Linked DNA regions of Homo sapiens. The protein of the gene in region 2 interacts with the protein of the main gene of each other region in a pairwise test. Each region holds a gene or a part of one and is shown on either strand. Other genes may lie near its edges.

Region 1 (3,970 bases), on a different chromosome or scaffold from region 2:
TTGAACTCCTGACCTCAAGTGATCCACCCACCTCGGCCTCCCAAAGTGCTGGGATTACAGGTGTGCGCCACCGTGCCCAGCTAATTTTTGTATTTTTAGTAGATACGGGGTTTCGCCATGTTGGCCAGGCTGGCCTTCAACTACTGACCTCAGGTGATCCACCTGCCTTGGCCTCCCAAAGTGCTGGGATGACAGGCATGAGCCACGGCGCCCGGCCTGTCAACGTAATTTTAAGAGTTAAGTGTGAAAGAATGTCTATCATATTCATCCTTGCCATTAGTTTTCCTTCACTCCTGACATTCCTAGTTTCCTTCCTTCTGTTGTGTCTAAAGTACCTCCTTTATCAGTTCTTTTAGATCCAGTCTGCTGGTGACAAACTTTTCCTTCATCTGAGAATGTCTTTATTCACTCTCATTCCTGAAGAATATTTTTACTGAATGTATAATTATGGGTTGACAGTTTTTTGCTTTCAGTACTTGAAAAATATTATGCCACTTCCTTCTGAGGAGAAATCTGATGACAGCTGCTGCTGAGAACCCACTACCGCTCCAGTCACTGTCCCCTGTGGGCTGTGCATCGCTCTCTCTGTGTGCTTTCAACAGTTTTTGTCTTTAGGCCGGGCGCAGTGGCTCACGCCTGTAATTCCAGCACTTTGGGAGGCCAGCGCAAGTGGATCACCTGAGGCCAGAAGTTCGAGACCAGCCTGGCCAACATGGTGAAACCCTGTCTCTACTAACAATACAAACGCCACCAGCTGGGCATGGTGGCACATGCCTGTAACCCTAGCTACTTTGGAGGCTGAGGCATGAGAATCGCTCGAACCCAGGAGGCAGAGGTTGCAGTGAGCCGAGATTGTGCCACTGCACTCCAGCCTGGGCAACAGAGACTCCGTCTCAAAAAACAAGAAATTCATTTCAAATATAAAAGAGAGAGGTAGGTAAAAAGAAAAAGGGATGAAAAAGTTATACCACGCGAATGCTAATCAAAAGAAAGCCCGAGTGGATTAATTAATATCAGACAAGGTAGACTTCAGAACAAAGAATGTTGCCAGACAAAGAGGAAGATTACGTAACAATATAAGGGTCAATTATCCTAAAAAAAAAAAACCCTAAATGTATACACATCTAACAACAAAGATACAAAATATATGAAACAAAAACAAAGAATCGTGATTTAAAAAATAAAGATCTATATTAAAACAGGAATAGAAAGAAACTTCCTTAACCTCCCTCCACTACCCCCACCACAAAAAACCTTCAGCAAAAACTCAACCTAAAAAAGTGAAATGCTGAAAGTTCTTCCTCTGGGATTAGGGAGAAAGACAGCTATTATCAACATCATACCGGAGAGTTTAGCTAGGGGCGATAATGCAAGAAGAAGTAAACAATATCAGCATTGGAAAAGAAAAATAAAACCTCCCTTATTTTATTTTACTTTATTTTTTTTGAGATGGAGTCTCGCTCTGTTACCTAGGCTGGAGTGTAGTGGTGCAATCTCGGCTCACTGCAACCTCCGCCTCCTGGGTTCAAGTGATTCTCCTGCCTCAGCCTCCCAAGTGGCTGGGATTACAGGTGCCTGCCACCACGCCCAGCTAATTTTTTTGTATTTTTAGTAGAGACGGGGTTTCACCATGTTGGCCAGGCTGGTCTCAAACTCCCGACCTCAGGTGATCCACCCACCTCGGCCTCCCAAAGTGCTGGGATTACAGGCGTGAGCCACTGCGCCCGGCAAAAACCTCCCCTATTTGAGACAATCTGTGCCAGTGGAGTGTCCTGTCTGGCCCCTCCCTTTCTTTTCCTGCCTTAGGCCTGCAGATGGGGCCTGCCTCCCCTACACTAAGGGGGGCTGTGGCTCCAGCAGGGTGAAGGCATCTGTGTGGAAGGCAGCCAGGCTGGGCTGTCAAGCTCGGTGATGCTGGGGAGGCATCCAGGCAGGAGAGGGGCCTGCAAATAGGGGAAGGGGCCACAGCAGCAATGGGGGATTGGTTACACCAAGAGGACTCGATCAAAGTAACTGTGTTAGTGATAATGGGCGAGCCAGGTTTCTCATTATTGGGAAAGGAAGTTAGAATAATGAAAAAGAAAGCTAGAATGCTAGAATGAACCTTTTGATGTTGGACTAACCACAATGGAATAGATTAGCCTATGAGTTTGTCTTGAAATTAAGACCTTCCATTCACCAAAGACACCAGTGAAGGAATAAAAGGCAAGCCATAGACTGGGAGAAGATATTTGCAACACATATAACCAACGCTAGGCTCATATTCAGCATAAAATACCCTAAAAAAATCTATGACAAAGGGCAGATGATCCAATAAACAATGGGCAAAAGACATGGCCTGGAGCTCCAAAAGAGGGGCTGTCGAAAGGCCAATTCTATGGACTGAGCTCTGCCCCCCAAAATTTACGGGTTGAAGCTCTCACCCCGAACATGACTGTATTTGGAGACAGCGCCTCTGAGGAGGCAGCTAAGGTTACATGAGGTCCTAAGGCTGGGGCCCTGGACTGTTGTCCTTACAAGAAGAGGAAGAGTCGGGCGCGGTGTCTCACGCCTGTCATCCCAGCACTTTGGGAGGCTCAGGTAGGCAGATCACGAGGTCAGGAGTTCGGGACCAGCCTGACCAACGTGGTGAAACCTCATCTCTACTAAAAATACAAAAATTAGCCGGGCGTGGTGGCATGCACCTGTAATCCCAGCTACTCAGGAGGCTGAGGCAGGAGAATCGCTTGAACTTGGGAGGCAGAGGCTGCAATGAGCCAAAATCATGCCACTGCACTCCACCCTGGGCAACAGAGCAAGACTCTGTCCCAAAAAAAAAAAAAAAAAAGAGGAAGAGACACCAGGAGTGAGCATGCAGCGGGGGAGGAGTCACGTGAGCACGCAGGGGGAGAGTCCACATGAGCACGCAGGGGAGAGGGTGCCGTCTGCAAGCCACAGAGAGGCCTCAGGAGGAACCCACCCTGCCGGCAACCTGATCTCTGACATCCAGACTCCAGAAGTGAGAAAATAAAACCGTTGTTTAAGCCACTCAGGCTGTGGTGTTGAGTTACGGCAGCCCTAGCCAATCATACGCCAATGCACACAGGAAGAGATGTTCAATCCCACGAATCTCATGAATTTGCAAATTAAACCAAAATAGGATGTGCTACGTGTCCACTAGAGGGAACAGAAGGAGCCGCTGACCACGTAAGTGTTGGCGCGCATGCAGCACCACGGCTACCTCGCACGATGTGGATGGATGCTTTGGAGAAGAATCTGGCATTATCAAGTGAAACACAGTGTAGGTCTGAAGACGCCAGACAGAAGCACAGGTGCCACAGAATTCCATTCACACCAAAACAGGGAGCGCTGACTGCAGTGAGCAGCCAGGGCACGTGGGCTCCGGAGGGAGCACAAGGAATTCCATTCACACCAAAACAGGGAGCGCTGACTGCAGTGAGGAGCCAGGGCACGTGGGCTCCGGAGGGAGCACAAGGAATTCCATTCACACCAAAACAGGGAGCGCTGACTGCAGTGAGGAGCCAGGGCACGTGGGCTCCGGAGGGAGCGCGAGGAATTCCATTCACACCAAAACAGGGAGCGCTGACTGCAGTGAGGAGCCAGGGCACGTGGGCTCTGGAGGTAGCTCCAGGAATTCCATTCACACCAAAACAGGGAGGGCTGACTGCAGTGAGGAGCCAGGGCACGTGGGCTCTGGAGGGAGCACAAGGAATTCCATTCACACCAAAACAGGGAACGCTGACTGCAGTGAGGAGCCAGGGCACGTGGGCTCCGGAGGGAGCACAAGGAATTCCATTCACACCAAAACAGGGAACGCTGACTGCAGTGAGGAGCCAGGGCACGTGGGCTCTGGAGGGAGCACAAGGGGCTGCTGGGCTGGATGACGCCGCCCCAACGTCTGCAGTAGCCTTGAGCTGTATATTTGCTATGAGCGGACTTTTGCAGGGGTCAGATTTCAGTTTATAAGGGG
Region 2 (3,676 bases):
ATTTTTAATAGAAACGGGGTTTCACCGTGTTAGCCAGGCTGGTCTCGAACTCCTGACCTTAGGTGAACTGCCCGCCTCAGCCTCCCAAAGTGCTGGGATTACAGGTGTGAGCCACCGCGCCCTGCCTAGAGTTTGATTCTCTTAAACCGTTCTACTAAAATACTATCAGTTTAAACTACCATCTACAGAAATAAAAAACATAAACCACTAAAAGATTAAAGCATTTAGGAGTTTATATGCAAAGAAGTCTTGCAAGGGAGTACAAGCTTTAGGAGGACAGGCTTATCAAATTAAAAAATGAAAAAACCTACAAAATTACCAAAGTCACCAAGTTTAGTTATTCTTTTCATGGTGGAAAACAGTTTCCTCAGATAATCATCATATCAGAGGTCATCATGTATCCTTAGATATCAGCATTGCCAAGACCAGGGATATAGTTATTAGTAATTTACAGGAAAGGCTCAAGGTTTCATTTACATGGGAAATGAGAACTAGACAGTGTGGTGACTGTTTTTGTTGTTAACCTTACCTCAGTGTTTTATCTCGGGTGGTCCCCAAGACCACCTTCAGGATCAGTGATTCACTGGAGGGACTCACAGAACTCAGAAAAGCTGTTAAGTTATGGTTATGGTATATTATAGCAAAAGAATATATATTAAAATCAGCAGCTGAAAAAAGGCACATAGGGCAAAGTCTGGGGGACACCAGGCACAAGCTTCCAGTTGTCCTTCACCTGTGAAGTCATGTAGACAGACCATAATTCTCTCAGCAGACAGACCATAATTCTCTCAGCAACAATGTGTGACAACATTCTTGGAGAATTGCTAACCAGGGAAGCTCCACCAAGCCTTGGTGTCCAGATTTTTTCTTGAGGGTTGGTCACGTAGGCATAGCATGACTGATAGCCCATGTGGCTGACCTTCAGTTTTCAGCCCCTCCAAAGATGGAGCTGATACTACATGGCCTAAGGACTTCACCATTAATCACATTGTTAGCTTAGACTACCTGGTATGGCCTAAGGCCCCCAAGTAAATTAAAACATTCATATCAGGCAGGATAGTCCAAGGACTTAGAGGTTATCTTGAATCTGGACACAGGACAAACATTTCTTTGGAATGTGAAAAGTTTACACAATCAAGACTTGCTATGTTGATCCTTTACTGCGGTATTGTTTTTTGTTTTCTGACCCAAAAGTGATGTGCATTGCTTACCTATCATGGCCTCTGGTTAAGGTGTCAGTCTTGCCTCCAAATTTCCTCCTAAAGCATGGAATTGGCCATAAATTTGCTTAGTGATTTTCTGATTTAGTATCATTAGTTTGATGACTAGTTTTATTATGTGAGTGTGATAAAAGGTTACGCTTAGTATACAAAGACCTTCTTATAAGTCTAGTTAATAAAACTAGGGCCATGTGTTACTACAACATAGGAGTTAACTTTGTCTGGAGGCTTTTTCAAGCCCAAGAGGTTGTCATTTCTTTATGTGTAAGATACTGCCCACATACTATACTGAAGTCAGGAACCAAGAACCGGTCAATTTACCTCAGCCAAGTTGCTTGGACTGCTTTGCTTAATAATGGGTTTGCCATATCTACTTTAATGAGATGTGTGGCATGGTGATGGTTACAAAAGTGATTTGTTAATTATTGCCTGGTAGGAAGGAGAACATGTTTTTTTTGAACCTATGCAAATAGCCACATGTCTGTGAAAAGTAAAGGGATACTTTTGTGTAATATTTAACCATGTATACCATTGTTTGTGTACTTTTTAATTGTGTCATTTTCTACAGTATTATTTTTGCATTTTCCTGACACTGTATTACTTACAAGTTATATTAATAATTTTTATTAATTTTTTTCCTGAATCCTAAAAGGTCAGTTGGAACATGAGACCATTTAAAGAATATTATTTCCTTCCAGTTTATTCAAGGGTGGCCTATTGAGAGTTTGAGATAAAGAAGAAAGGAATCTTTCCTTTCCTTCCCCCTCAGCCCGCCCCCTACCTTTCTTTTTTTTTTTTTTTTCTTTTCAGGGTCTTGTTCTGTCACCCAGGCTGGAGTGGAGTGAATGCAATCAAAGCTCACTGCAACCTCAAACTCTTGGGCTTAAGCAGTCCTCCTGCCTCTGCCTCCCAAGTAGCTGGGACTACAGGTGCATGCCACCACACCTGGCTAATTAAAAAAAAAAAAAAATTTTTTTTTTTGAGGAGACGCGGTCTCACTTTGCTGCCCAGGCTGGTCTCAAACTCTGGGCTCAAGCAATCCTTCCACCTCAGCCTCCCAAAGCTCTGGGATTACAGGCATGAGCCACTGTGCCCGGCAGAATTTTTCTGTGTCCATTAGAAATAGAAATCAGTCACATGCTATGATTTCAATATGTCACTCAAAAGCCATGTGTTGGGGCTGAACGTAGTGGCTCACGCCTATAATCCCAGCACTTTGGGAGGCAAAGGAAGGTGGATCACTTGAGGTCAGGAGTTTGAGACCAGCCTCCAACATGGTGAAACCCCGTCTCTACTAAAAAAAAAAAAAAAATTAGCTGGGTGTGGTGGCATGCACCTGTAGTCTCAGCTACTCATCAGGCTGAGGCAGGAGAATCGCTTGAACCCAGGAGACAGAGGGTGCAGTGAGCCGAGATCATGCCATTGCACTCCAGCCTGAGCCATAGAGTGAGTCTTGGTCTCAAAAAAAAAAAAAAACCTTGTGTTGGAAACCATCTCCAATGAAGCAGTGTTAGGAGATAGGGCCTAATGGATATAAATTACAGTGTCTAAGATGGATACTTTACTCTTTTCTTTTGAGAAGGGAGAGAGTATGTTATGCACTGAGAACTTTTCAGATTTCTTGCAGAGGTCATAATGTTCCAGACAAGCTGGCAGCAATCATTCCCATCCCATCACAGATCCAGGCTTATTTGTAGAATGGTTACACAAACCAAGCAAAACCTTCTGTAAAGTTTCTACCCTTTGCTCTAAAGTTACATAAAAACAATTTCCAAGTTTGTTCACTGTGTATATTTTGTTCTTTTTCATGGTAGATTTGTCTGTTGGAGTTAGATATCCCTAAATAGTGTGTTCAAATGATGTTTTTTTCTGACTGTTCAATCTCCAGCATATTTCTGAGGGAGAAAGGACATTGACTTTGGAGAAAGAAAGCTGTGTAATTACAAATGGACTATTACAAAGAACTATGCCTTCCTTTTTGAGGAGAAAAAAGATGGTTTTTAAAAATTAATACGCAGGCTGGGCGTGGTAGCTCACGCCTGTAATCCAAGTCCTTTGGGAGGCTGAGGTGGGAGGATGGCTTGAGCTCAGGAGTTTGAGACCAGCTTTGGCAACATAGTGAGACCTCATCTCTACAAAAAAAATTTAAAAATTAGCCAGGCATAGTGATGCATGCCTGTAGTTTCAGCTACTTGGGAGGCTGAGATGGGAGGATTGCTTGAGCCCCAGAGATGGAGGCCGTGTGAACCATGATCATGCCACTGCACTCCAACCTGGGAGACAGAGCAAGACCCTATCTCAAAAAATAATAGCAATACACAGAACTACCAGCCTTAGTTTATAACATTAGCCACAGATGGATCAAATGTAATAAAAGTACAAAAAGCGTGAGTCATTGGTTAATGGTAGCAGCTCCAGATCTCCAAGGGCTTCTCTGCATTCCAGTGGCCACAAAA

Evidence for each region. Proteins that work in one complex are often made in the same cells at the same time.
Region 1: the proteins of CEP57L1 (region 2) and CCDC57 interact in binary tests that used the Homo sapiens proteins (3 or more experiments, as listed by UniProt).

Annotation. Positions count from the first base shown.
Region 1 is NC_000017.11:82,167,699-82,171,668, forward strand, and holds part of CCDC57 (coiled-coil domain-containing protein 57), read right to left. Parts: intron 1-3,970. UniProt on the Homo sapiens protein: Pleiotropic regulator of centriole duplication, mitosis, and ciliogenesis. Critical interface between centrosome and microtubule-mediated cellular processes. Centriole duplication protein required for recruitment of CEP63, CEP152, and PLK4 to the centrosome.
Region 2 is NC_000006.12:109,171,419-109,175,094, forward strand, and holds the end of CEP57L1 (centrosomal protein CEP57L1), read left to right. Parts: 3' UTR 1-3,000; downstream 3,001-3,676. UniProt on the Homo sapiens protein: Centrosomal protein which may be required for microtubule attachment to centrosomes.